4 linked regions of the Homo sapiens genome follow. The protein of the gene in region 4 purifies or fractionates together with the protein of the main gene of each other region. This does not show direct contact. Each region holds a gene or a part of one and is shown on either strand. Other genes may lie near its edges.

Evidence for each region.
Region 1: the proteins of RSPRY1 (region 4) and INF2 purify together in Homo sapiens (affinity purification with mass spectrometry; 2 studies listed by BioGRID and IntAct, with this or other methods). This does not show direct contact.
Region 2: the proteins of RSPRY1 (region 4) and NES purify together in Homo sapiens (affinity purification with mass spectrometry; 2 studies listed by BioGRID and IntAct, with this or other methods). This does not show direct contact.
Region 3: the proteins of RSPRY1 (region 4) and INA purify together in Homo sapiens (affinity purification with mass spectrometry; 2 studies listed by BioGRID and IntAct, with this or other methods). This does not show direct contact.

The regions. Positions count from the first base shown.
Region 1 is NC_000014.9:104,713,600-104,720,683, reverse strand, and holds part of INF2 (inverted formin-2), read right to left. Parts: coding exon 7,078-7,084; intron 6,482-7,077; coding exon 5,828-6,481; intron 5,401-5,827; coding exon 5,345-5,400; 3' UTR 5,344-5,344; intron 3,122-5,343; coding exon of another isoform or gene 3,038-3,121; intron 1,890-3,037; coding exon of another isoform or gene 1,861-1,889; 3' UTR 1-1,860.
Region 2 is NC_000001.11:156,674,408-156,681,850, reverse strand, and holds the start of NES (nestin), read left to right. Parts: upstream 1-4,443; 5' UTR 4,444-4,586; coding exon 4,587-5,369; intron 5,370-6,510; coding exon 6,511-6,635; intron 6,636-7,443. UniProt on the Homo sapiens protein: Required for brain and eye development.
Region 3 is NC_000010.11:103,272,858-103,280,215, forward strand, and holds the start of INA (alpha-internexin), read left to right. Parts: upstream 1-4,280; 5' UTR 4,281-4,354; coding exon 4,355-5,419; intron 5,420-7,358. UniProt on the Homo sapiens protein: Class-IV neuronal intermediate filament that is able to self-assemble. It is involved in the morphogenesis of neurons.
Region 4 is NC_000016.10:57,203,329-57,210,328, reverse strand, and holds part of RSPRY1 (RING finger and SPRY domain-containing protein 1 isoform 1 precursor), read right to left. Parts: intron 5,826-7,000; 5' UTR 5,671-5,825; coding exon 5,321-5,670; coding exon of another isoform or gene 5,317-5,320; exon of another isoform or gene 4,948-5,316; intron 2,737-4,947; coding exon of another isoform or gene 2,644-2,736; intron 2,272-2,643; coding exon 2,219-2,271; intron 1,255-2,218; coding exon 1,142-1,254; intron 1-1,141.

The sequences.
Region 1 (7,084 bases), on a different chromosome or scaffold from region 4:
CGACGCAGACGTCCACAGCAGCATCCACACGAGGACGACGCAGACGTCCACAGCAGCATCCACACGAGGACGACGCAGACGTGCACAGCAGCATCCACACGAGACTACGCAGACGTCCACAGCAGCATCCACACGAGACTACGCAGACGTTCACAGCAGCATCCACACGAGACTACGCAGATGTCCACAGCAGCATCCACACGAGGACGACGCAGACGTCCACAGCAGCATCCACACGAGACTACGCAGACGTCCACAGCAGCATCCACACGAGGACGACGCAGACGTCCACAGCAGCATCCACACGAGGACGACGCAGACGTCCACAGCAGCATCCACACGAGGACTACGCAAATGTCCACAGCAGCAGGATTCACAGAAGCCCCAAACTGGAAGCAACCCAGATGTCCATGGACAGAAGAGCAGACAAACAAAATGTGGTCCCTGCATGCAATGGAATGTGCTTCAGCCATGAAATGGAATGAAGTCCTGATACAGCCTGCCGTGAGGATGGCGCGTGAAAACAGCCGAAGGAAGCCAGGAGACATGCATGACATCTGGAGCGTCTGGAGTGCAGGTGAGTGGCTGCCAGGGCTGGGGAGGAGCACGGGGAAGGGGTCGGACTGATGGGTGCGAGAGGACTTCTTGGGGTGACGGAGAGATTCTCAAAATGGATCATTGCACAAACTTGATCTGCTGGAGAGCAAACACCACCGCAGCACACACATAACCAGGGAGTCTGGTGGTTTGTAAATTACGCCCCTGTAGAGCTGCACCCATCTCACCACTGTTGGATGCGGTTCACCACTGGGTCTGCCCTCTTCTAGATGTTTCTTACTGCCTCCTGAGGGCTCCAGGGACAGCCCCTGGCCTGGGGGACTGGGGGACCCTCAACAGTGAATGCTCACACGGTGCCTGGGGGCCCAGGGACCCCTCAACAGTGAGTGTTCACACGGGGCCTGGGGGCCCCTCAACAGTGAGTGTTCACACGGGGCCTGTCCAGCGCTCACCATGTTTGTGGGAGCCCACGTCCACCGCCCACTCCCGCAGCCTCTGAACACGACAGTCGCACACCGGGCTAGGTCTGCTTTTTATTGGCCACGCATCCAGCCGCCAGCCTCAGGGCACACACCTGGCAGGGGGCAGGCTCGGGTAGGCTGCCCTCGCTGGGTGGGCAGTGAGGGGGCAGCGGCTGCTGGGTGTCACCCTGCAGCCCCTCAGGTGGACCTGTATTGTCCCCAGGGCCTGCCCACGCTGGGCAGCTGGCACTGGGAGGGGTTTTCTGTTGATGTGATGGCCAAGTTTCAGCTGCAGGGCAGAGGCCTGGCAGTGGCAGCAAAGGCAGACCGCCCCCCACTCCAACTTCAGGGGCTGGACATGCTGGAACGGGGGCCAGACCCCATGGGAGGGGACCCTGGCCTGCCATGGCACTGCCTGCCAGCTTACCCCTGCCCAGGGCCCCCAACTCAGCCACCTCCAAGCAGTAAAGACTTGCAAAGCATTGCATTTTGATTAAACCTTGCTGGGCTGAAGGGCAGGCAGAGCTGTGGTGGACACTGGCAGGACGCAGCACCCCCCGACTGGCCCTTGGCAGGCTGCACCGGGCGCATGCGGGTGTGGGCCAGGGTTGCCTTTAGGAAGCAGGTGGGAGGCTGGCACGTGCAGGCGGTCCAGGAGGGCACCAGGCCTGGCAGGGCACTGGTGCCTGTCGGGTTCCCAGCCACAACACCCCAAGAAGGCTCCAGGAGGGCCCCGGCTGGGTAAGGCACGGAGTTTTGGTTTCCGGGGCCCAGTCCCAGCCTGGCCCCCAGAAGAGCCTCTCTTGGCAGAATGGCAGCATGTCCTGTGGCCTGGGCTCTCTCACTTGGCCTTGGGCCTGGGCCTGAGGCCTGTAAGAGAGAGAAAAAATGACATTATTAGGAGCAGTTTTGCTGGGTACAATATCAGGTGCCCGCTTCTGGGTGCCCAGGTCCCTGAACCCCTCATCGCCACTGTCCAGCAGGTTGTGCCATGCATCGCAGGTCCACTCTGACCCCAGGCTCTTTCTCTGGAGCAGCACAACTTATCTAGGTGGAAGGTGCCGGGCTGGCCTGGCCAGGCTGGGTTTTGGCAAGGCGTGGCAGCCTGAGCCTGTCTCCTCTCTGCTGAGATAGGGAATCTCTGTGGCCTGTCCCCCACCCCCTGTCTGAGACCCAGGCTGCACTCTGTCCTTACTCATTCATCCCCACTGCCACCCCCTGCAGCCCTCCATTGCTTCCACGTCGGGCCCTGGGCCCCACACGAGGACCCCAGCAGCGCTTTCTCCAGTGGGCTGCTGAGGGCGCTCAGCCCTGCCCCAACAGCTCCCGCCACCCAGACGGCCCCCACACATGGCCCCACAGGCCTCCTGCCCCCAACGCCCTCTTCGCTTTCTGGTCCAGGGGCCCTCGATGGCCCTTGTCTGAGTGTCACCCCCACTGCCACCACAGTGCCAGGTGGTGTCCCAGCTCCCCAGTGGGATGGCCCAAGCAGGGTTTGAGAACCACTACTCTAAACAGACAGCAAGAAAACAAAAACTATCCAAAACAATCACTCAAAGGAGGGTCTCAGCACCATTCCCCACTCAGGGAACCTGGAGAAATGGCCAAGACCAAGGCCCGTGCAGGGATGGGGGGATCAGCAAGTCTGGGGTGAGCTAGGAACAGGGGCTTGTGCCAAAGATGGGAAGCGCTCAGGGCCCCCGCTGGTCCCCATCAAATGCACGGCAGTGGCAGTGAAGGATTACTGCACGTTCAAAACTCACGTGATGGAAAAAGGGAGGGGAGGGGGGAACGCTCGGACGAGGGGCGGCGAACACAGAACCGCGCTGCAGCGGTTGGTTCCACAGGTCACCACCGGTGCTTATTAACCAGACAGCGTGGTGTTCGTGCAGTGGAGGTTCAGAAACCACCCCCGCAGCCGTGGTCAGCGCTGCTGCCACAAACGTCCCCACCCAGCTGGGGAGGACATGGCATCCCTTGGGGTAGAACTCCTGCCCCAAAACTCAACCTGGACCTACTTGGGGGCGCAATCAGGCAAACCCAAAGTGAAGTTATCTTCCAGAACGTCAATGTCATACAAGACAAAAAGGGGCAGGAATGTTCTAGAACAAAAGAGACTGAAGTGATATGATAACCAAACACAGCATGTGACTCTGGATACAATCTTGTTTGCAAAAACAACAAAGCAACAACTAGAGAAGGAATTATTGGGGCAAGTGGCACATCTGCACTGGGACCGAGTATTAGAAGCATGTGGACGTGAAGCGCCCCACAGCGGACCCTGCCCGGGGGGGACTGGGAGGACGGCAGCGCACCCTGCCCGGGGGGGCGGACTAGGAGGACGGCAGCGCGCCCTGCCCGGGGGGGGGACTGGGAGGACGGCAGCGCACCCTGCCCGGTGGGGGCGGACTGGGAGGACGGCAGCGCACCCTGCCCGGGGGGGACTGAGGAAGACGGCTGTGCTCTCAGGTGTCTGTGGGCGAGTTTAGGGCTCCAGTGCCATGATGTTTATAAGAAACTCTCAGATGCCTCAGTTGGAGGGGGGCAATGTAGCAAAATGGTCACAATTTTGGTATTTTTGGCAAATGGTTGTAATTTCGGGGAGAAGGTGTTGTTCATTCTGATCTATGCAGTTTCCTGTGGTGTTGAAGATTTTCTAAATAAAAAGGTGGGGGCTGGGCACGGTGGCTCACGCCTGTAATCCCAGCACTTTGGGAGGCCGAGGCGGGTGGATCACCTGAGGTCAGGAGTTCGAGACCAGCCTGACCAACATGGTGAAACCCTGTCTCTGCTAAAAATACAAAAAATTAGCCGCGCGTGGTGGCGTGTGCCTGTGGTCCCAGCTACTCGGGAGGCTGAGGCAGGAGAATCACTTGAACCTGGAAGGTGGAGGTTGCTGTGAGCTCAGATCGCACCACTGCACTCCAGCCTGGGCAACAGAGTGAGACTCCGTCTTGAAAAAAAATAAAAAATAAAAAGTTGGGGAGAGAAGAGGACTTCTTCCTCTTGCCCTCAGCCACGTGCGTGGCAGGAGCTGGGGCGGGTGGAGGCTAAGCACGTGTAGCAGGTTCAGGAGGGAACCAGGTGGAGCGTGGAGCTGGCACTGGACACGTCCATCTTTCACTGGACCATTGTCAGATGTGGCCGCCCGCCCCAGACCTGCATGCTCCACTGTTCCTCACACTCAGGGCCAGCAAGTCCAAGTTCCAGCCTCTAAGGGAGATGCCAGCACCTTTCTAAAAAGTACACGTGGGTGCTTCACACCAGAGAGCCACACTCGGAAGATGACCCTGGAAGCAAAAGCTGGAACCCAGGGTGAAGGCCGTGCCCCAACAGCGAGGACAAGCTGTCCGGAGAAGCTTCTCCGGGGTCACGACTGCTCTTGCCTCTGATGGGCACCAGCAGACCTCAGGTGTGCACCTTGAGCCTAAGCCCCAGGCCCAGCGGTCAGCATATTTGTGATGCACCGACACCGGGCTGGCTCTGAGCAAGGCTGGAGGTGCTGGAAGACGCCACGACCTGGGCTCACAGAGCTCATGATCGGCCGGGCTGGACCTTCTGGTTCTCTGCTCTAGCCCCTCCTCCACCCAGTGCAGGCTGGTCCTGTCTAGCTGGATGCATTGGCCTCTCCAGCCCTGTGGACGGACCTGGCTGATTGACCTTTGGCTGGTCGCCCCCCAGAAGACTCGGTGTGCGGGGGGTAATCTGCTTCTCCATAGACCCACCCATGGCCTCGGGGTGGGAGGACACTGTCCAACAGGAGGGGGGTTGCAGTGTACTTGTCCCTGGCAGCATCTGCCCTTGCGACTGTCCCGGTCTCCTCACAGACTTCCTGGGGACATGCCCCAGAAGGCCCCACGCCATTGACACACTTAGAGTGAAGATAGCCCTCCACCAACAGACAGAGCAGGAAAGCCACAGGGTTACTGGAACTGCAGTTAGCGCCAGGACACCAGACAGGAGCAACCTCAGCCTGTCCTGCCAGCCAGGAGGTCCCGCCCACGCCCCAGGGCCCGGATCCTGCTTGCTAAGGGAGTCCGGCTGGCCCTGCCACCTGCCCTCTCGAGGCCCGCATGCCCGGGGCCAGCACTGAGGTTGCGTCCTGCCTGCAGGAGGCACCAGTTGAGCAGGTAACCTGCGGAGAGGGAGGGGATGGGGCGGGAAGCCCACCACCAGGGCTGCGGGAGCGGCAAGGCCACACTGACGCACCACGCGGGCTGGAGAGAAGCCAGGTTAGTGTCCCGGAGGGGTGTGGGCAGCAAGCTCCAGCCCCACTGCCCTGCAGCTGCTGTTAGCCCCCACGGAGCGCCGGCTGCGTACATACCTTACTGGATCACACACAGTTTCTTTGTTTTATTATCATCAGAATCAGGGGGAACCTCTGCTTCCAAATAAAAGAAACGCACTCAACGGCTTATCACACAGAAGCAACCCTGACTCGGAGTGGGTGGGGCTGGGGGGCCCGGGACAGCCATGCCAACACCCTCTGAGGGCTGCCCGGTTCTCTGGCCACTAAGCCACATGGCAGCCACTTGCCTGGGACCTGGTGCCCGGTGTCCGCCCCCTACTCCCTAACGGAGGTGGCGTGAAGGTCGGAATTAGTAGGTTGGAGGAATAGTTGCACGGGCCGCGGCAGCCCACATAGCCGCCCTGCGGTGGACGCACTGCCGCCTCCTCTCCCGTGCCGCACCCAAGTCACCTCTCCTGGGTGCCGCTGGAACTTGCAGTGCCCAATGGGGAAGGGGAGGGACCGGCTGGGTGCCAGCGCCCTGGCGTGGGACGGTGCCCGGGGCCCCTCCCTGAGTTACCTTCCTGGCTCCTGGAGGGACGCTTCTTCCTTCGCTTCCCGGTCCCCTTTGAGGCCCGGCCCCGGGCCCTGGGGAGTGTGCCCGACCCCGAGGAGTCGGTCACCGCATCCTCGGAGAAGGACTTGTCCAGGGATGTGTCCAGTGCGGACTCTGGGGCCGTGTCCTCCTCGTCCTCGTCCTCATCCCCACCTGGGCCTGCTGCAGGGGGTCTGGCACCACGGCTGTGGACAGCGTCCTCCAGCCCCTCACTTGTGCTGTCGGCCTCGGCCTGGAGGACGCCCAGCAAGGACGTGGGATCCTTGGCATCTTGCCTTGAACTTCCGGCTGCAGGGGGCTGGTTGCTGGAGAACTTGAGGGGCTTCAGGGCCTGAGCATCTCCCAGAGTCACCGGCCAGGCCCCCTCCAAGGGCTGGGGGCACTGGGGATCCTCAGTGGTTAGGACATCGCTGGCATCCACATACCAGGAAGAACGCCTCTCCAGGGGCCGTGGACCACCCTCCTCCAACTGCTCCAGGGTGGGCTGAGGGCCGGGGGTCACGGCGTCTACAAGGTCCCAGCCCCGGGACTCGCTGGCTGTTGTAGCATCAAGGCCGGGCTCAGAGGCGGGACAGCGCGTGCTGCCCACGGGATCTCCTGCAGGGTTACTGGTGGCCACTGGATGGAGGGACACACCAGTGAAGGGCAGGCACCCTGCCCCCGAGCCAGCCCAGGTGCAGCCTCCTCCATTCCGCTGTCTACCTGAACGCCCTGCAAAACCTCCTCCCCAGAAAGCCTCCTCTGATGTCTCAGAGCAGGACCCGGCCTCAGCGTCCTTGGTCTGTCTACACTGTGGCAGGGTGGGGGACACTGGGCCATGCCATTCCCAGCACCCTGAGGCAGCCACCCCAGGAATGGGGTCCTCCCACCAGGGCCTTGCCGCCTGCCTTTCCTGCCACCTCTAGCACCCTCTGAGCCCAAGGGCATCGGTCAGTGGGCCTGGCCTCATCTCTCTGGAGCCCAGCGGGCTGGACTGCTGCTTCAGCACTGAGGGCAGGGCCTGCGGTTACAGTGGAGGAGCTGGAGTGAGTGGAGGGAGGGATGAGGGCTGAGCGGCCACCACCTGTCCCCTCGGCTGTCCCCAGTCTTAGGGGCCTCCAGGGTGGCCCAGGGAGAGGAGAGGGCTTTCCAGTGAAGTCAGGAGGACTTCCTGGAGGCACAGGGTAGGGACAGTGGCAAGGGGACCATGAGGAGGCAGTGGGAGAGGGTCTTACCAGGCTC
Region 2 (7,443 bases), on a different chromosome or scaffold from region 4:
AAACTTCAATCTCCTGTCCCATTAAAACACTCTTCATTACCTGCTAGCCAAGGCTTGGCCCCAGGTCCAAAGGCTGGCACTGGGGAGAGGAATGCTCTGCTCTTTGCACCCACCCCCACCCCTGTGGCCCCCTCTGAGGCTTATTTCCCCGCTGTAGGAGAGAGGAAGACACAGGGGTAGGTGCCACTTACCTAGTGTTACAGTCAACCTCCCTCAGACGTGAAGCTCCCTTGGGTGTGGTGACACCCAAGCCGGCTGCACCATGGGGGCTCCGTTTGTGGGGTCCTCTTGGCCCACAGAATCTCACCTGTCTCCTCCTGTGCCCCTCTCCTTTCCCCATTCATCTCTCTCCAGGCTCTGTGTCCCTTATTCAGTGAGGCTAAGAGAGTGGATGAGCAAGTCCTCCACCCTAAAAGACAGCCGGCCTGGAGCGGGATGCCAATGTGTCCTTTGGCAGGCCCTGCCTTGAGGAGTCCTTCCTTGGGGAGGCTGCACCCACTCTCCTTGGTGGGCATCATCCTTGCCCTCTGAGCAGAGGAGGGAAAGCCACAGCCTGCCATCCTGGACTGGCCACTCCACACTCCAGTGCTGCTGGTCACAGTCTCCTCACATTCCGCTTGCCTTCTCTAATGCAGACTTCGGTGGGGAGAAGGCCTTCAGGGTGGGGGCTGGCAATTTCCTTTAGGCTGTGTGTGTGCTACTCAGAGGCCATTATTTTTAGTTTCAGAGCTTAGACACAAGTTCATTCAGAAAGTCTTTATCAAACACTCTGGGACGGGTGTGGTGGCTCACGCCTGTAATCCCAGCACTTTGGGAGGCTGAGGCAGGTAGATCACTTGAGGCCAGGAGTTCGAGATCAGCCTGGCGAACATGGTGAAAACCCCGTCTCTACTAAAAAAAACACAAAAAATTAGCTGGGCATGGTGGCACAAGCCTGTAGTGCCAGCTACTCGGGAGACTGAGAATCACTTGAACCGGGGAGGCAGAGGTTGCAGTAAGCCGAGATCACGCCACTACACTCCAGCCCAGGTGATGGAGCGAGACTGTCTCCAAAATAAATAAATAAAATTTTAAAAAATTTAAAAATTAAAAATACAAAAACATTATTCCAAGATCCCTTACCATCTGGTCATCTTCTTCTGGGATTAACTCCAATCCATCAAGGTCCCTTTTAAAATATAGTGTCCAGTACAACACTCCAGATGTGGAGGGCAATGGGAGTGTTGCCATTGCTCATCTGGACACCTTGAATCTATAGTCACTTTTATCCTTTTCACTTTTTTAGACAGCCACCCAGTATTGGTTTCTTCCTAACAAGCTTGTAGTCTTCTAAAACCCCCAGCTCTTTCTTCTTTGCTAGACACTCCCTACTCTTCAGCCGGTCTTTATTCTCCTCTTCTTATGCTGTTGATTTTTTGAAACCAAAAGCAGAATTTTACACTTATCCCTATTAAATGTCATCTGTTTTTTTTTTCTATTTTGCTAAAATATAACTCTCAGTTCTTGCATAGTCTGTAGATCTGATAAACATGGCTTCCATGTTTTCATTCAAGTCTTTAATTAAAACTTTTAATTGTCAGGACCAAGGACAGGTTCCCTCGGGGCAGCACACAGAACCCACTAAGCTTGCTCATGGCCATCTCTGGGGATGACTGCTGGGCTGACTTTGTATCCACCAGCTGTAGTACCACATAGTTCATATGTCCTGGGTCCAGAGACCCAATAAAAGGTACGGCCAATGGCCCCACAAACATCCCAGTAACTAAATGCAGTCACCAGGGAAGGAGATGAAGGGAGGGCCTAAGTTTCTCTAGGGAGGGCCTTATTTCTCTAAGTACCTCAAATATCAGGTATCTGTTTAGAATCTGGTAAGCACTGACGTCAGATCCTCTAGGTTGTGAATGCTGGAACCTACCATCTCCTGTTTTAGGAAAATCAACACCACACTCTTCCCCAGAATTCTTAACAATCTCTATTCCCCATAATTCCTAAAACTCACAAGAGTGATTCACAAGAGGAGGTTTTCTTTAGCTTAATGGCTTTCATTGTGACGGTCCTCAAAAAAGGCTTTATACAAAGACTTCCCTATACCTGGTCTTATTTGATTATCAGAACAAACTTATAGGGATAGGTGGGTATTAACCTGCTTTGCCAAATAGGTAAACTCAGGCTCACTTAGAGAAGTTATGTGATTTGTCCAATGTCATTCAGTTAGAAAGTGCAAAAGTCAGCTAATCTTTGCATGAGACACAGTTCCAAATGTCTCCCCTTTGGGTGAGGGTGAGGGGTTCAGAGAGGAACCCCCAGCCCAATGCCACCCTACCTCTTTAGGGGACCGCCCCCAAGAATCCCAGGGGATCTCAAACATTTAGCATCCCTCTCCTCCCAGACAGAAAGTGAAAGAAAGAAGGAGGTCGGGTGCAGTGGCTCATGCCTGTAATCCCAGCACTTTAGGAGGCCAAGGCGGGTGGATCACCTGAAGTCAGGAGTTCAAACCAGCCTGGCCAACATGGTGAAACCCCATCTCTACTAAAAATACAAAAATTAGCCTGGCATGGTGGCAGGCATCTGAAATCCCAGCTACTTGGGAGGCTGAGGCAGGAGAATCACTTGAACCGGGGAGGCGAAGGTTGCAGTGAGCCGAGATCACATCACTGCACTCCAGCCTGGGCAACAGAGCAAGACTCCCTCTCAAAGATAAAAATAAAAATAAAAGAAAGAGAGGAGGAGATTCCAAGCAAGCTCTGCTGGCCACAACTCTGGGGAGCCCTCAGCCCAAACCAAACAGCAGGATTTATGAGGTAATGCAAGGTTGAAGGAGCCTGGGCATCCCAGATCCTCAGCCTCCCGGCCTGCACTGACTCTCAGTCAATGTCCTGTCACTAACCCCTCCCTGGCCTCTATTCTACATATTGGTGGTGAATTCCAAAGCCCCATTGGCCTGGGGACAGGGATGGGGTCCTTGAGAGACTCCTCAAGGGGAGGGGATATTGGAGGGATGACTTCCTGGTTATTGACCCGGCTGTACCCTCTACTCAGAAAACCCTCTCCATCCTCTGTGCTGCCTGGCTCTGTCCCCAGCACCTTGGAGGCTGATTAAGTATTGTAGTCATCTTTTTATGTTTACCTCCACCAACAGACTATGAGTGCCCATCACTGTTGACCTCACATCACCAAACTATAAGCATTTCCAGGGCTGGGACAGAGTTCCTGCAATCTCTTTGGTGCTGACACATAGTAGGTACTCAATTAACACTTGAGCTAAATTGGATTTAGCAGCTTGATCAGAAACGCCTTCCCCAAAGATCCCCTCCGTCTCATTATCCCTGCATCTCCTCCCCAGCCCTACTTCTCCTTCACTGTAAATCCCCCAAATCCCACCTGTCCTTTACCTCCCAGCTCAAGGATGCACTCCGTCCAGAAAGCCTTCCCTACTACTCTCACCCTTGGTGAGCTCTCTACTTCATAAACTGTAGAATCTTTAAAAGGTTGTTTTGAAGATTAAGTCAGATCATGGAAGTAAAATATTGGAACACGACTGGGCACATCATAAAGGCTGGATAAACTTGGGCTAGTCGTTAGGAAGGAAAAGAATGGCCTCTTCCTGCTGCTTCCACTTCTGAAAGCCGCCAGAGGGCGTCCACTACCCAACATTCCCTGGCAGGGGGTGCGGGAGAAGGGGCCCTTCCCCAAGAACAGAACTTCCTAAAGCGGATGTTTGAACCTCGCAGTTATACAGAAGACTTGTAGGAAGGATGGACAAACGTTCTTAAGCCCATGACGGCCCTTAACCTGGTCGCTCCCTTTTCTGATGGAGACTCAGGCAATAGCGTGTGTGCGTGTGTGTGTGTGTGTGTGTGTGTGTGTGTATCCGTGTGTCCTAATATCAGACATTTGTTCTTGTTTTCCAGGCAGCGTCTCTCTAGCTTCTTTCTGCAATGCTGTAGTACTCTCTCCAGTATTTCAGGAGGAGGAGCATTTGCTATTTCAAAAACGAAAAACAAAAACCTGGCCACATCCATTTTTTTCAGCAGCCATGCGATTTCCATCATTGCTCACATTTTATGGATGAGGAAACTGAGTCTTAGAGGAATTCAGTAAGTGATACCTCTCTCGGATGTGTTGAGTAACTGAGACTGCACTCCCTCCCAGGCTGGAACGTCCTGGTACTCCCACCCCCACAGGCTCAGTTCTGTGCATTATCTGCCTTTTTCGGGGATTGTGACCCTTCTTCACAGCCTCCTCCCTCAGAAAGCCACCACCATCAGATCCGATTCTCCATGGTACAGCTTCTTCTTTGGTTCCACTCTCCAGCACCCTGGGGAAGCAGGAACAGAGGCTGCTGCCACTCTCTGACCTCTAAGGGGTTAAGGCCTGGGTCCCGCCCCTCTTCCCGCCCGCCTGGCGGGAGTATGAATAGCCTCGCTCCCACTCCCGACTCTCAGTCGCTCAGGCTACTCCCACCCCGCCCCGCCCCGTCATTGTCCCCGTCGGTCTCTTTTCTCTTCCGTCCTAAAAGCTCTGCGAGCCGCTCCCTTCTCCCGGTGCCCCGCGTCTGTCCATCCTCAGTGGGTCAGACGAGCAGGATGGAGGGCTGCATGGGGGAGGAGTCGTTTCAGATGTGGGAGCTCAATCGGCGCCTGGAGGCCTACCTGGCCCGGGTCAAGGCGCTGGAGGAGCAGAATGAGCTGCTCAGCGCGGAGCTCGGGGGGCTCCGGGCACAATCCGCGGACACCTCCTGGCGGGCGCATGCCGACGACGAGCTGGCGGCCCTGCGGGCCCTCGTTGACCAACGCTGGCGGGAGAAGCACGCGGCCGAGGTGGCGCGCGACAACCTGGCTGAAGAGCTGGAGGGCGTGGCAGGCCGATGCCAGCAGCTGCGGCTGGCCCGGGAGCGGACGACGGAGGAGGTAGCCCGCAACCGGCGCGCCGTCGAGGCAGAGAAATGCGCCCGGGCCTGGCTGAGTAGCCAGGTGGCAGAGCTGGAGCGCGAGCTAGAGGCTCTACGCGTGGCGCACGAGGAGGAGCGCGTCGGCCTGAACGCGCAGGCTGCCTGTGCCCCCCGCTGCCCCGCGCCGCCCCGCGGGCCTCCCGCGCCGGCCCCGGAGGTAGAGGAGCTGGCAAGGCGACTGGGCGAGGCGTGGCGCGGGGCAGTGCGCGGCTACCAGGAGCGCGTGGCACACATGGAGACGTCGCTGGGCCAGGCCCGCGAGCGGCTGGGCCGGGCGGTGCAGGGTGCCCGCGAGGGCCGCCTGGAGCTGCAGCAGCTCCAGGCTGAGCGCGGAGGCCTCCTGGAGCGCAGGGCAGCGTTGGAACAGAGGTTGGAGGGCCGCTGGCAGGAGCGGCTGCGGGCTACTGAAAAGTTCCAGGTGAGGAGGTTGAGGGCCTGGGTGAGAGAAAGTCCCAGAAAGCTCCAGAAAGTCCCTTATGAAGCTCAGAGACCTTCTGGGAAGGGAGTGGGGCTAGCTGGCTGCTGAATCAGGAGCCAGTTCTCAGAAACCTGGTGCCACAAGTCCTAGACTTTTACAGCCCGTCTAGTGTAGGATGCGAATGGTGGGGCTTCTCGAAGCACATCCCGGGTGGGCAGTCAGGCCCAAGACCCGTTGCAGCAGCCCCGCCACTCTCTGGATGGCACCTTCTGGCTCTGATGATGACCGGGGCTCCGGGTCCCTTCCCAGGCTCTGGTATTACTAGGAGGACACCCAGCACTGTCGCCTCTGCGCTGAATCTGGTGGCCTGGCCACTCAGAATCACCAAGTTCCTCACAGCCCTCCTTCTCCTGAGGGGAGGAGTGAGGGGCCGTGAATGAATGGCTACCAGCCCCCTCCCATGTCATGGCTTCTCGGCTCCCTGGAGCACATTCCAGAGGCCCATAACAGCTGCTCCTTCTCACAGGGCACAGATGTGACCAGCAGCTGAGAAAACAGCTTCTTGCCTGGGCCACACAGAGGTGCCATGGCCACCTCCCCATCCCTCCTCTCAGAGGAGACAGAATCCAGAACATGTGGGAAATGGGGGTGGGGCGGGGGTGAGAGCCTGCTGTGAGGAGCAGGAGACAGTTGTGGGAGATGGGACCAACGGGGGACGGGGGCTGTTTGCCTTCCAGTCCTGCAGGCTCCAGGCATCTTGATTAATCGTTTTTCCTTCTGCTTTCGCTTTTTTTTCCCCCTCTTCTCTCTCCATAACCCATCTCGTCTCCTCCCTCACCTCCCCTTCCTGTGGGAGCTGTGTTCTGAGCAACATGTGCTACCATTTAATCAGCATCCTCAGAGGAGGAGCAGGCCATGGGAGAGAGCTGAGAGTGCTGACAGGGGCCCTGGGCTCATCTTGGCTGATCCAGAGGGGGCTCTCTGGGCAGGGAATAGGGTAGGGGAGGCGGGGGTCTGCTACACAGATAAGTCAGCCAGGGAGCAGGAGGTGCTTCCCGGGCAGCGGCAGCGGGCAGGAGGCAGGTTGGTTCACAGAAGGGACCCCAGCCCCTCCACTGACTGCCTCTCGCCTGCCCTGCAGCTGGCTGTGGAGGCCCTGGAGCAGGAGAAACAGGGCCTACAGAGCCAGATCGCTCAGGTCCTGGAAGGTCGGCAGCAGCTGGCGCACCTCAAGATGTCCCTCAGCCTGGAGGTGGCCACGTACAGGTACGAGACGAGCCCTGTCCACCCAGGCACACAGAGGCACACACACATGCTGGGGCAGACTACGTGGCTGAAGGGGACCAGAGGTGTAGGTGATGGCAACTCTGCTGCCACTGGGTTCTGTGACTCTAGGCTGGTCACTTCCACACCGGAACATGTCCTGCCTGAAACCGTCTGCTCCCCCATAGGCTGGAGACCTGAGCAATGTCCTGTGCCCAGGAAATCCCCCCAGGAGAGATGATATTGCCGAGCGGGACAGCCTCTGGAGAGGGGCTGGGCCCGTGTGGGGCAACTGCATCCAGACCCTTCCCCCAAGGGGCAAAGCTCCAACTCTATGTGTGCCCGCACCCAGGGGGTCATGTCCTTTGGCAGCCACGGAAAGGAGGCATTGCAGGCATGGGGTGGCTGCACTGACTTGCCACCTGACCTGGGCCTCAGCCTCGTCTAGGGGCTGAGGGCTGGGCTGGGGGACTTCCAAGGCCTCTTCTAGCCTGGATGTCATGGGGCGAGACTCCTCTGATGCCCCTAGTGCCCTTGGTCCTGCCCAGCCTTTCATTGTCCACATTTTCTGTTATCCTAGAAATGGCTGAGACCAAGGAGGGGTGGCTTCTCACTTGCTATGTGGCCTTGGGCAAAGCCCGCAGTCTCTTCTGGGAAACTGGTCCTGTTGGCTGAGGGGCCATTGATGGGGCCTGAGGAAGGGGCTCTGTGGCTGGTGAGGGGCCACATGAGATCCAGGAAAGGAGGAGAGGCAAGGCCCAGAGATGGAAGGTCAGTGAGGCTCTGGGGAGGACGTGGAGGAGAGGGGCTC
Region 3 (7,358 bases), on a different chromosome or scaffold from region 4:
GATCTCTGCTCACTGCAACCTCTGCCTCCCGGGTTCAAGCAATTCTCCTGCCTCAGCCTCCTGAGAAGCTGGGACCACAGGCATGTACCACCACACTCAGCTAATTTTTGTATTTTTGGTAGAGATGGGGTTTTGCCATGTTGCCCAGGCTAGTCTCAAACTCCTGGGCTCAAGTGCTCCTCCCACCTCAGCCTCCCAAAGTGCTGGGATTACAGGCATGAGTCACGGTGCCTGGCCTAAAAAAAGAGTTTACAAAGGAAGAGCGGAAGGCTAAGAACTGAGTCATTAAAACCAAGGAGAGTGGTCAGCACTGCCAAATGCCACAGAGAGACTGGAGAATGTGGCCTTAGGGAGAACTGGGGATGACTGACAACGTGTCTGTGGTGTCTGAGTGTGCCATCAGAGGAAGATGAAGACACAGCCCTGGCACACACAGGGAACTCCCTCAGGAGGCCTGGCCAGCTGGAAGGAGTTATGGATTGAGGCTCAGCCAAGATCACTCCTTCGCAGGATAGCTTTGTGCTAAAATTATTAAAGCCAAACATCTGGGCCTGTGGGGTGGGATGCCAAGAAAGAGGAGGCATAAGTCCCACAGGGGAATACCAGTTTGGAATCTCAGATAAGCTGTTGAGAAAATGCAAAATGCATCTTTGCCAGGGCAACTGTCACTCTGCTGAAATATTTAGGCCTTTTGCCTCACTTTCTTCTGTTCTATGTGTGTTTTGCCTTTGGGGTACTGATTCCACTGGAGGATGGGAAGGGAAAGAAAGCGGAACTCCAACCAGGACATTTTGCTGACTTTCAGTAGTAGTAGCCTGGAGACCTGTGCAAGGGTGTGATGGACTATTTCCTGCAATCCCCTCCCTAAACCCAATTCATATCCTGTTGCTGATGGATGTGAAACCGTTCCTTTCATTTGAAAGAGGATGATGATGACCATAACTCTTTATACCTACAGCTTAAAAGCACCTTCACATGCATCAGCTCAAGCTTTCATGACTCTTGGGAGGTAGGTGTTGTTATCCCTACATGCTTAGTAAGTGGCAGAAGCCACAATTCAAACCCATTGCCTCTGACTCTGAGTCCAATGTTCTTTCAATTACAAACCAGCATGCTGATTTGTTATCAGCCAAAACTCTTCCAAAGCCCACTTAGTCCTATTCTGGCTGCACAGAAATATTTTGTTTTTTTGAGACAGTTTCACCCTTGTTGCCCAGGCTGGAGTGCAATGGTGCGATCTTGGCTCACCACAACCTCCGCCTCCCGGGTTCAAGTGATTCTTCTGCCTTGGCCTCCAGAGTAGCTGGGATTACAGGCATGTGCCACCACCCTCAGCTAATTTTGTATTTTTAGTAGAGACAGGTTTCTCCATGTTGGTCAGGCTGGTCTCGAACTCCTGACCTCAGGTGATCCACTCGCCTCGGCCTCCCAAAGTGCTGAGATTACAGGCAGGAGCCACGGCAGCCGGCCGTGCTGCATGGAAATTAACAAGACTTCAAGAGTCTCACTGCAGGCTGGGCGCAGTGGCTGACGTCTGTAATCCCTGCACTTTGGGAGGCCAAGGCAGGTGGATCACCTGAGGTCAAGTTCAAGACGAGCCTGGAAAACATGATGAAACCCCGTCTCTAGTAAAAATACAAAAAATTGGCCAGGCGTGGTGGCTCATGCCTGTAATCCCAGCACTTCGGGAGGCCAAAGCAGGTGGATCACGAGGTCAGGAGTTCAAGACCAGCCTGGCCAACATGGTGAAACCCCATCTCTACTAAAAATACAAAAATTAGCCAGGTGTGGTGGTGGGCACCTGTAATCCCAGCTACTCGGGAGCCTGAGGCAGAGAACTGCTTGAACCCAGGAGGCAAAGGTTGCAGTGAGCCGAGATTGTGCCACTGCATTCCGGCTTGGGCGACAGAGCGAGACTCCATCTCAAAAAAAAAAAAAAATACAAAAAATAGCCAGATGTTGTGGCAGACACCTACCCGCTGACCTGTGGTGAGCCAAGATCACGCTACTGCCCTCCAGCCTGGGCAAGAAGAGCGCAACTCCGTCTCTCTTTTTTTTTTTTTTTTTGATGGAGTCTCGCTCTGTCACCCAGGCTGGAGTGCAGTCGCATGATTTCGGCTCACTAAAACCTCCACCTCCCGAGTTCAAGCAATTCTCCTGCCTCAGCCTCCTGAGGAGCTGGGATTACAGGCCCGTGCCACCACACCCGGCTCATTTTTATATTTTTAATAGAGACAGGGTTTCACCATGTTGGTCAGGCTGGTCTCAAACTCCTCACCTCAAGTGATCCGCCCATCTCGGCCTCCCAAAGTGCTGGGATTACAGGTGTGAGCCACTGCACCCGGCCAACTCCGTCTCAGAAAAAAAAAAAAAAAAAAAAGAGTCTCACTGCACTAAGCAGAATTATGTAGTGAAGAGAGAATGTATGCTTGTCTTTGCTTGCTGGTGACCTTGTGCTGCACCCGCACCTCGGTGCCTTATCTATAAGATGGAGGTGAGGGCCACCTTGAAGCATGGTTCAGAGGTAAACCTATGCAAAAGTGCCAGCACAAGTACTGGCAGACAATCATTACTCAGCAGTGTTAGCAATCTTTTATTGTTCACCTTACCAGGTCTTTCTAAGCCCAAAGACCTCAGAATTGAGTCCCTCCAACTCAAGGCTTTGGTCTGTGATGAGGAACCAGAGGGGCAGGCTGTGGCAGGGCCTGACCATCTTCCATGACATCAAGCACAAAGCCAAGAGATATGCTCCAAAGTCCCATAAGATCCCTTTTCACCCTTCCTTTAGTGGCCTGTCCCAAGCATATTCCCCTTTCCCCATGAAGTAAAACTTATCCTAGAACTACGTCCTTGAAGATTCCAATATCAATAAAAGGCCCTCAGTCTGGAATTCTGGGATATAACTAAAAAGGTCTTCCTACTCCCTCTCCAAAGCCATATCCACATCCTGAATGATATTAGAAGCTTGCAAGTGGGTACATATTACAGACGCCACACTGACCCCTCCCAGCCTTCATCTTTTCAGATTCCATTCTTTGATTCTCACCCCCTGCCCCACCAACCCTACCATGTGGCAGAAGAGGCCGGCTCAGTCACCAGCACTCTCCCCCACTCCTGGAGTTTAATCTTTTTGCAGGGATCTCTTTTCTCCAAAAAGAGATCTGCACAGGGAGTGGCTCTCTGAAGCCAGTTGAGAACCTGCCCTGCTGGATTTACACAAACTGAAATCTCAAATGCCCACAGGGTCAGAGAGGTAAAGTAAATGAATTAAGAAGGGGGGCGTAATTCAGTGGAGAATGGCAGGGACTGTAGTGAACAGGAGAGCACACTTCTTATACAAATGGCAAGGGCAACTCACCTCTGCCACTGTGGGCATCCCAGCTCTTCCCATTTTCAGAAGAAGCCAGAAATCCAATTTCTTTACAGGTGAAATCTCCTGGTTTAAAAATGCTCCTTTCGAAATATTTTAAAATATAATGCTCTAAACACAAAAGTCTGCAGCCCCCTTTCCAGCAGCTTGTGGTCCTGGCCTGTGCCATGCTTTAGTGCCCTAACGATGAGCCCCAGCAATTCCCAGCGCCTCCTGCTTCTCCAAGTCTGGCCTCTTTTCCCCTCTGTACCGCCGCTTCTCCCCACTCTCCGCAGCTCGGGGTCACTTTCTTTACTGATCTCCCCTCTCTTCTGGGAGAGGCACTTGCTGAACATCTTTCCGCCCGGAGCCTCCCCAGGAGCTGCAGAGGGGCAGCTGGAGAGATGCTTTCTGACGTAGCATCTCCCACCTTTCTCCTTGGGGACCCTGAGGAAGGGGACAAGGGCTCGCTCTGCAGGTCCTCACTGTAACTGGAAAAACACGACCTCGCCCTCGGGAAGGCTTTCTGTGCGCCTCACCTCAGGATGAGGGTGGGTGTAGGGGACACCTCCCAGAAACCCCTAACCTCCCAGTCGGTTAAAGAAGAGGGGATAGGGTCAAGGGATGCGACAGAGCTGTGTGGTTTCCGGATGGGAAACCTCAGTCGTTTAGGCACCCCTCCGCTCGAGTCACTTCCGAAGCAGTCGATTCTTGGGGAGAAGCGCTGCGGAAAGGGGCGACTCCGATGCAGATGGCCCTGTCCCGGCGCCCCAGGTCGTCGCGCGCGCAGCTGCGGTAGTCACTGCGCCTCCCCGCCCCCACTCCTGGATGCCCCCCTTCCCTCTCCCGGCCAGACTCTGAGCAGGAGCTCCGCCCCCAGCGCGCCGCCCCAGCCCCGGCGCCTTAAAAGCCGGGCGCACCGCCCCGCCGCGCCCTGCCTGCCGCACCTCTCCTTTCTTCTGTAGCTCGCGTTGAAGCCGCACGTCCGGCCCCGATCCCGGCACCATGAGCTTCGGCTCGGAGCACTACCTGTGCTCCTCCTCCTCCTACCGCAAGGTGTTCGGGGATGGCTCTCGCCTGTCCGCCCGCCTCTCTGGGGCCGGCGGCGCGGGCGGCTTCCGCTCGCAGTCGCTGTCCCGCAGCAATGTGGCCTCCTCGGCCGCCTGCTCCTCGGCCTCGTCGCTCGGCCTCGGCCTGGCCTATCGCCGGCCGCCGGCGTCCGACGGGCTGGACCTGAGCCAGGCGGCGGCGCGCACCAACGAGTACAAGATCATCCGCACCAACGAGAAGGAGCAGCTGCAGGGCCTCAACGACCGCTTCGCCGTGTTCATCGAGAAGGTGCATCAGCTGGAGACGCAGAACCGCGCGTTGGAGGCCGAGCTGGCCGCGCTGCGACAGCGCCACGCTGAGCCGTCGCGCGTCGGCGAGCTCTTCCAGCGCGAGCTGCGCGACCTGCGCGCGCAGCTGGAGGAGGCCAGCTCGGCTCGCTCGCAGGCCCTGCTGGAGCGCGACGGGCTGGCGGAGGAGGTGCAGCGGCTGCGGGCGCGCTGCGAGGAGGAGAGCCGCGGACGCGAAGGCGCCGAGCGCGCCCTGAAGGCGCAGCAGCGCGACGTGGACGGCGCCACGCTGGCCCGCCTGGACCTGGAGAAGAAGGTGGAGTCGCTGCTGGACGAGCTGGCCTTCGTACGCCAGGTGCACGACGAGGAGGTAGCCGAGCTGCTGGCCACGCTGCAGGCGTCGTCGCAGGCCGCGGCCGAGGTGGACGTGACTGTGGCTAAACCAGACCTGACCTCGGCTCTGAGGGAGATCCGCGCCCAGTATGAGTCCCTGGCCGCTAAGAACCTGCAGTCCGCGGAAGAATGGTACAAGTCCAAGTTTGCCAACCTGAACGAGCAGGCGGCGCGCAGCACCGAGGCCATCCGGGCCAGCCGCGAGGAGATCCACGAGTATCGGCGCCAGCTGCAGGCGCGCACCATCGAGATCGAGGGCCTGCGCGGGGCCAACGAGTCCTTGGAGAGGCAGATCCTGGAGCTGGAGGAGCGGCACAGTGCCGAGGTAGCTGGCTACCAGGTAAGGGCCGGGGCTGGGCGTGGGGAGGGGTGCCCTGCCCTCTTCCGCGCGTACCCTCTTCCTCTGGTAAAACTGGGCCCCAGGACTTAAGGGGAGGGCAAAAGAGAGGAGAGAAGAGCCGCGGCTGGAGGCGCTGGTTAACAAAAAACCCTGGAGTCTTTAATGTTAATTTTAGGGAACGCCCCTCATTTATGTCCCTGCCCCAGCCCTTCAAACAAAGAAGCCCTTAAATTTATTTGAGGTTCGAAAACCCAACTCTGCCTGTCTGTCAGCAAGCGGGCCTACACACACCGGCGACCCGGAGAACAGTGCCCCACCCAAAGTAAGACTGAGCCCAACGGGGCAGGTTACGTGGGCGGTGCTGTCTCGGCTATCTGGCTTGTTTGGTTGACTTTGAAAAGCTTTCTGTGCGCCCTAGAAGTTATTTATGGAGTATGGTCTGCTTCAGGGCTGAAGGAAGAATGCGATCCTGAACTGGGAAGAGTCCTATCCCATTTTCTTGACTTTCGCGCTCCAAAAAGTAGAGATTGGGAGCCAACAAGCTGAGCGATGCTTGAGCTAGTAGTAACCACCCTGCTCTACCCACCTCCCCAACACACACACACACACGATTCCCTTGTCCACCAGCACACACACACACACACACACACACACACACGATTCCCTTGTCCACCAGCTGACATTTCCTCCTTAAGAAAGCGTTCGCCGGTTGGCAAAACGTGAAAGGTCGGGGCGCTGTCCACGGTGCTGATCTCGAGTTCTTCCCATCTCAGAAATTATGTCTCTCCTGTCTCGTGTCCCAGTTATGAATCTCTAGGCAATTAACTGCTTTGATTTTTTTTTTCCTGCAACACCAACACATCAGTCTTGGCTACCTGCAATCAAAGGTCACCTCATAGACAACATCAGTTTTGGCTTTCATGGATGGCTTAGCACTAAACAAAAAACACTTAATTTGCTCAGCAGCTGTGAGGTCCCACTTGAAAATTCCTGTTTTGTTAGTATTTTTTTCATTGTAAGTGCATGTGATAAGTCACAGAGATGGTTTTTCTTTGTTCTAGTGTATGTATTTTTTCCATATTTCCCTGTCCTCTAAGCTCCTGTGATGGTATTGATTGGCTATTTCTTCCCAACAAAGGCCACTGTGTCTTCAGTTTTACTATATAAGAAATTCTGGGATTATGACCGCAAATGGCACAGAGGCAGGGGACAGGGTAAATGGAAGGTGTAGAAAAGAATTGGAATAGTGTGGTTCGGTTTCAAGGTACAATAAAAGCTCCTTTGAATAGAATGACTATAATTCAGAAACTTGCAATAATTCTAGCTAGGATTAAAGTTTACATTTGGTGAGATTAATAGGGCTTGGAACATTGGTAAAATAGAACCAAGAAAGGAATGAAATCTCAAAAGTAACATTTTAATCAGAAGCTAAAGAATTCTTATTGATGTGCAGGTATTTGCTGTTTGTTACAATAACTTCCTTTGATAAAGGAAAAAAGCCTGCTTGGACTGTTTAGGTTAGTTTGGTATTGCATTATCATTCAAATAAGTACTTCCATTTCTGCCTCAAAATCCATAACTTGAACTTTTCATTATGTACCCTAACCCCTGGATGGCCTGAATTAATCACATTTGGCTAATTGAGACTTCATTTTTTTCTTCTAGAAGCCTCCAAGTACGAGCTAGGTGGTCTTCTGGAGGGCTAGCCCAGTATTTCTACAAAAAAAGGATAACTTACTCAGAGCTGCCAGCTGAATTGGGCTTCTCCATTTTCTCTGCTTGTTATAGCCCATACATTCTAAGAAGTAGTGACAGTTTTGCCTGGCTTGTTTGCTGTAAAAGGCTTTCATCATTAGACAATGGTAGCGTCATCCAGACATGGTCTACAGGAAACAAACAAAAAACAACAACAGAGAAACTGCAGCATCTGCAGCTCTGC
Region 4 (7,000 bases):
GTGGGAGGATCCCTTGAGCCCAGGAGTTCAAAATCAGCCTGGGCAACATAGTGAGACCCTTTATCTACAAAAAATAAAAAAAATTTAGCTAGGTGTGGTGGTGCATGCCTGTAGTCCAGCAACATGGGAAGCTGAGGCAAGAGGATCACTTGAACCTGAGAGGTTGAGGATACAGTGAGCCATGACTGTGCCACTGCACTCTAGCCTAGGCGGGGCCGGGGAAGGAAGGGAGGCAAGAAGGAAAGGGAAGGAAAGAAGGAAGGAAGGGAGGAAGGGAGGAAGGGAGGGAGGGAGGGAGGGAAAGAAAGAAAGAAGAAAAAAAAGCAATTAAATAAAGCCTTGATAGAGAATGTGGCGGGGCACAGTGGCTAACGCCTACAATGCCAGCACTTCGGGAGGCTGAGGTGGGCTGACTGCTTGAGCCCAGGAGTTTCAAGACCAGCCTGGGCAACATGATGAAACCCCATCTCTAAAAAAAAATACAAAATTAGCCAGACATGGGGTCATGCACCTATGGTCCCAGCTACATGGGAGGCTGAGGTGGGAGGATCACCTGAGCCTAGGGAGGTTGCAGCTGCAGTGAGCTGTGATTGCTCTACTGCACGCCAGCCTGGGTGACAAAGTGAGACCCTGTTTCAAAATAAATAAATAAAAAGACAGAGGGCTGGGTGCAGTGGCTCATGCCTGTAGTCCCAGCACTTTGGGAGGAGGCCGAGGCAGGTGGATCACCTGAGGTCAGGAGTTCAAGACCAGCCTGGCCAACATGGTGAAATCCCGTTTCTACTAAAAATCCAAAAATCAGCCAGGTGTGGTGGCGGGTGCCTGTAATCCCAGCTACTTGGGAGGCTGAGGCAGGAGAATCGCTTGGACCCGGGAGGCGGAGGTTGCAGTGAGCCAAGATCACATCATTGCACTCCAGCCTGGGCAACAGAGTGAGACTCTTGTCTCAAAGAGGAAAAGAAAAAAAAAGAGGACATAATTCTTCATAATACAAAATAAATTTACATAACAAAATCAATACTGAATAAAACAGACCCCAAATGTATAAAGATGAAACACAATACATCAAATGTTCTTTGTGGTCATTTATCTTGTGCTTAAGCACAAATGATAGTTTCATAAAAGATAAGTATTAACTTACTTTAGTGGGCAATGGACATTCATCTAGTAACAATGTTATAACAGCTGGTCCCAGTGGATCTTCCAGTGGAATAACTCTAATTAAAGACTGGACAACATCCAACCATCCTTCATCTAAGAGCAAATCAAGAAGATTATATGATGGAGTCACTATTTTTAAAATGTGAAAATATGTCACACGAGATCAATTCACATTAAAAGAAAGACTTTTGGTCTATAGATTTTTAGCAGCTAATATTTGGCATGGACATAATCATCAATTGCTAGTCATCGTGGTGGAGTAAAAACATCTTAAGTTACAGGAGTCTGGTGATTTGTGGGTACCTTTATTTGGAAAAAGGTTAAGCTATGGTCTTGTGCTCTCACATTAAAATAGTTTTAAGCATCTTATTTACTACATAGGAGTTAACTGAGAAAATGAAGTATACTCAGCAGTTGGCTTTGTTTTCAGAATGATACTTAGGAAACTAAGGAACAAAAAATATCTTTGGCCAGGGGCTGTGGCTCACACCTGTAATCCCAGCACTTTGGGAGGCTGAGGCAGGAGGATCCCTTGAGCCCAGGAGTACAAGACCAGGCTGGGCCAACATGGTGAAATTCTGTCTCTACAAACAACAGAAAAATTGCTGGGTATTGTGGCATGCGCCTGTGGTGCTAGCTACTTGAGAAGCTGAGGTGGGGTGATCACCTGGGCCAGGGTAGGTTGAGGCTGTAGTTGAGCTGTGATCGTGCCACTGCACTCCAGCCTGGGCAACAGAGTGAGACTCTGTCTCAAAAAAAAAAAAAAATATATATATATATATATATATATAAATAATCTCCTCTCCATTCCAGAACAGTATGGTGAAAGATCCATCAATGCCAAAAAAAAAAAAAAAAAAAAAAAGGTATAATATGCATTGCCTATTATACCTATTCAGGGAAATTTCCATACAGTAAGGGCTTTTTTCATTGTTATGTATGCTGTATTTTTGGAGTCTTTTATCTCAAAACAAAACAAAACAAAAAACAAAAGGTGGCTACTTTTCTTCATTATTATATATTCATTATAAAGTAATGAAAACAAAACTAAAAATACCTGTTTCTGCCATTTCGTGTAATGTTATCATTGAATAGGGAGGTTCCTGATCACTGGAAAAAAAAATTCAAGGCATTAAACCTGAGGAAATAATAAATGACAATTCCAAATAAGAATTCAAACTGGAGGTGTGGAGGTAAAAAGGGACAGAAGAAATGAACACAAATGTAAGGAAAGAGATAGAAGAGACAACCTGAGCTATGACCTGTAAGGATGAATGTATACCATATGTGCTCATTTCCAGTCACTGTCCACAATGACCCACAGACAAAATGGGCAGGTGGATACAGACAAAGACTACTATGTGTCCTGGGGTAAAAGCACAGGAGTAAAACTGGAGATCACAGCCTACTCTCAGCTTTACACTCAGAGGCCCAGTGCCAACTGAGACAAGCCAGGAAGGTCAACATCACCTTCATACTTACCTCAGAGAAATGCCAGGAAGAGAGACGACAATCCCGGTTGAGGACTTATGGAAGCAAGGGCCTATATACGCATCTTCATTTTGAAGTTTTCTTCTGGAAATACCACTACATGCTTAGACTTCATAAAATGGTATTACAAGAAACAAAACCAAACTTAAGGAACTACTTAACATTCTAGACATTGCTCCAAAGTGGCATTATACACCTTAATTCAGTGGTGTGATCCCAGAAATCTTTAAAAAGTCCTTCAGGGGAACTTCAATAATGAGATGTTTTCCATTAAACAATTCTAACTGCTTAAGAACTCACCACTTATTTGTTTACATATTGTGGGTCTCTGTTTTAGTGTGGAAAAAAAAAAAGCCCCAAAAACTATCATCTTAAGTCATTTAATCCAGAGAATAACCTTGTGATATGGGAATTAGTATGGTCATTTCAGGTACTCATTAGGTGCTGCCTGTTTAAACAATATAATTGACTGATGCAAGTATTTCTGAAGAATGATCTGGCAATAATAAAATTAAGTATGCATATACCCAACAGTTGTAGATAAATTTTTACACAGGTCCAAAAATCAATGCATATTTGCGCTGTTCACTGCAGTGCTGTTTGTAAGAACAAAAATTTGGCAGTAACCTAAGTGACCATCACCAGATGAAAATGTAACAAAATATAATACTTTCAGGCATACAAGGGAATACTCTGTAATAGTCAGAAGCAGTTGTAGATTTATATACAGTAACACAGATTTCGATGTTGAGAAAAGTTAAAAACAAAGAGGTTTGTATAACTATGTCACTCTCTTTTAAAATATTGCAAGGGGCCAAGCGTGGGGGCTCACATCTGCAATCCCAGCACTTAAGGAGGCTGAAGCTCGACAATCGCTTGAGTCCAGGTATTTGAGACCAGCCTGGGCAACATGGCAAGACCTGGCTCTACAAAAACTTTTTTAAAAATTAGCCAGGTGCAGTAGCACACGCCTGTAGTCCAAGCTACTTAGGAGGCTGAGGTGGGAGGATGGTTTGAGTCCAGGAGGCTGAGGCTGCAGTGAGTCATGATCACGCCACTGTACGCCAGCCTGGGTGACAAAGTGAGACCCTGTCTCTTTAAAAACAAAACAAAACAAAAAAACTCTCTCTCTCAAAGTCTATTCTGCACCCATTTTTCCAATGAGCTTAAATTAACATTGTTTGTGGTTTACTTCCTTATTTGGGAAGGATAACTTTTATTACAATTTGGTACAAGGGATTTAAAAAATTTTTTTTGATTAATTAATTTTTGAGACAGGGTCTTGCTCTATTGCCCAGGCTGGAGTGCAGTGGTGTGATCATAGCTCACTGCAGCTGGAAACTCCTGGACTCTAGCAGTACTCCGGTCTTAGAATCCTGAGTAGCTGGGATCACAGGCAAGTGCCACTGTACCTGGATAATTTTTAAATTTTTTTTGCAGAGATGGGATCTCCCTATGTTGCCTAGGCTGGTCTTGAACTCCTGGCCTCCAGCTATCTTTCTACCTCAGCCTCTCAAAAGTGTTGGAATTACAGGTATGAGCCATTGTGTCTGGCCAAAAAATTATTCTTCTCGAAGACTAACAAATGCTCCAGTATTTTATGGAAAAGTTTAATACAGCTCTAAAAATTCGTTTGTATTCACAGGTACACTCTGTTTTATGCTTAATTTTTGAGGAACTAAACGAAACTGGGTTTCTATAAATGCGATTATCAAATGTTTATATACTTAAATTTACTAGCAGGGCCTGAAGCAAAAAGAACACATAAGTAACTTTTTAAAAAATACTACCATCTACTGAGCAACTGTTAAGTACAAAGCTCCACACTGAATGCCTTATGTACATTATCTCATGATAATCCTTGTGGGAACAATATTATCCCCCCATTTACAGATGAGGAATCTGAGGCTTCAAGAAGTAACTTACCCAATGTCATGCAGTTAGTAAGGCACTGGGCCAGAACTTGAGCTAGGCCCATCATGGTTCTAAGCTTTGTGCTCTTAACTACTGAAATATACAACCTTAAGTTAAATGTTTTTTTCTACTTGGATGCCCTTTAATTTCACTGTTATTCAATCTATGATTTTGTATTTAGAGGTAGACAAAGCAGAGGAAAAGACAAAACAGGTACAGGTGTGCCTTGCAGTATCAACTGACAAGCTTCCTAAATGGATTAAAGATAGTCAAATAAGGGATAAAGGATCAAATAAAGGATAATGAAAACTCTCCTTGACCTTAGTCCTTATGTTGCCAAGAGAAGTTGCCTGTAGCCATGTTCTTGGTAAAACAACTTACCTTGAATCTGAGGTCAGTGGAATAGACAGGCATGTACCATTAACAGTGAGCCTTCATGAAACCATTTCCTATTGTAGCTAGCAACATAAACTCACTCCATATTTACTCTATTCTCTAATAAAGATCATAGCTTTATCGTGTTTTCTGCTACAGAAACATTTAGACATTTCCAGACAAAGTAGATGACAGCAAGCAAAAACATCAAATCTTATCATTTACTCTGCCATCAGCGGAGCATTAAAATATTCTCCTTTGCCCTGTGAGCACAAGGCTTGGCGAGTATGTCCTAAAGGAACTGAAGGAGTCCTAAAGTCATGGTTCCGGGCAGAACACTTTTCATTCCACTGGAGGTGACCGTGAGTCAGATACTTACTTATCTACAAGAGTCCGTATTACTGCCAGTGTGTCCAACACTAGCCCATCCACATTTTGTTTCTTTCTCCTTGGCTCATGAGGTCCTCGGCCCCTCCTTGGTGGCCGAACAGGGTCCCGTGGTTGGCTCCTTGTGTCAGCAGTGGGTACTGCACTGTTCTCGGCCTGTTGCTGTTGGGTGTCAACACTGTCATCTGTTCCACTGTCATCTCGGCAGATACAGGAATTACCCATGGTAGTAGCGGCACCTCCAGTCCCTAGGAAGTGGGCTATGTGCTCTTCGAGAGTCAACAACAGACCCTGGCCAAGGCTTCTGCTCGCTAAGAACACGGCCCAACCAAAGACGATCATTTAGGTAGTTTTCAGTTTTCCAAGTACTGTTTTCATAACCTGGAGTTGAGGAATTTGCATCCTATTTGTTTTTAACAACTGAATGCCAAAGAAAGTTGCAGAGCTTATTCCCAACATTATCAACTACAGGGGATTCTGGACATCCAATGGCAGTTCTAAAAGAAAATGAGAAAAAGGAAAATGAATAAAAGATTCTTGACCACTTAATTACTCAAATTTTCCTAGTCTGATTTTATAGATATTAGGATTCTAATGAAGAATTATCTTTGGTTATTTTTATAGGTTTCCAATACAAAGAGATAGCTTTGGATAACAGAATTCGCAATCAATCAATAATTTCTTTTTATCATTCTGTTACAAAGTTGATTGCCAAACCATATTCTTATAGACCAGAGGAGTTATCATTGATTTTTTTAAAACCACATGTATAGTTTTTCCTGTCTATATAGAAATACATTAGAAGGATGTGTGCATTTTTTTTCAAGGGCTCCTTTTATCATAAAAAAAGAGTTGTCTTTCTGTGTAAGAGGTAGGTGTTAAAAAGAGAAAAATCTTTAAAAAAATGAATTAACTCCTTTCTTTAAACCCATAGGATAATTTAACAAGTTTTAAATAAAATAATTACAGACGTTTGTTGTTAAAAAAAAGTTATGATACAAATATGATAGCACCATTTGATATCAAGGAGAATAAAAGGATAGAGTTTCCCATTGGAAGCTCACTCAAGAACTGACAGAATTCATACAAGTTGTTGCAAAGTGTTTCTGTTATGTAAGCAAGGCTTTGTTTTGGGAAAGGAAAACTGATATCACAAAAGTTGTATTTTCACAATGATCAGTTTGTTGCACATGTCTATTACAAAGTTCAGAATAAGATGCACCAATTTATCTTTGCCTGAAAATACTGACTAAGGACCTTGTGCCAGGTACCACGCTGGACTAGGAGAATAAAGATGAGTAAGGAATAGTTCCTGCCCTCCAGGAATTCATGGATGGCCATTCTCATCCCACAAAGTATGTTTATCATTAAAAACCTAATGAAAGAACCAGCTCTTCAAGAAGCTGGTAAAATCTGGTTAGATTCTGGAAGGAAGTAAAGATTTAGAAATAGGAGACTTACATGGGCTGGTAGCAAAAAGTAAAAAAACAAACAAACAAACAAAACAGGCTGACAGCTGGAGAACAGGCCACATAAGGAATAGACTATGCTAGTGTGTAGTCTCTACACAACATCTGGCTAGTTACAATTAATTCCTCATACCTTGAGCACTGACCAGGAATAATATAAACAAAATTTATAATTCAGTGGAATTAGAAGAGAAATATTACTC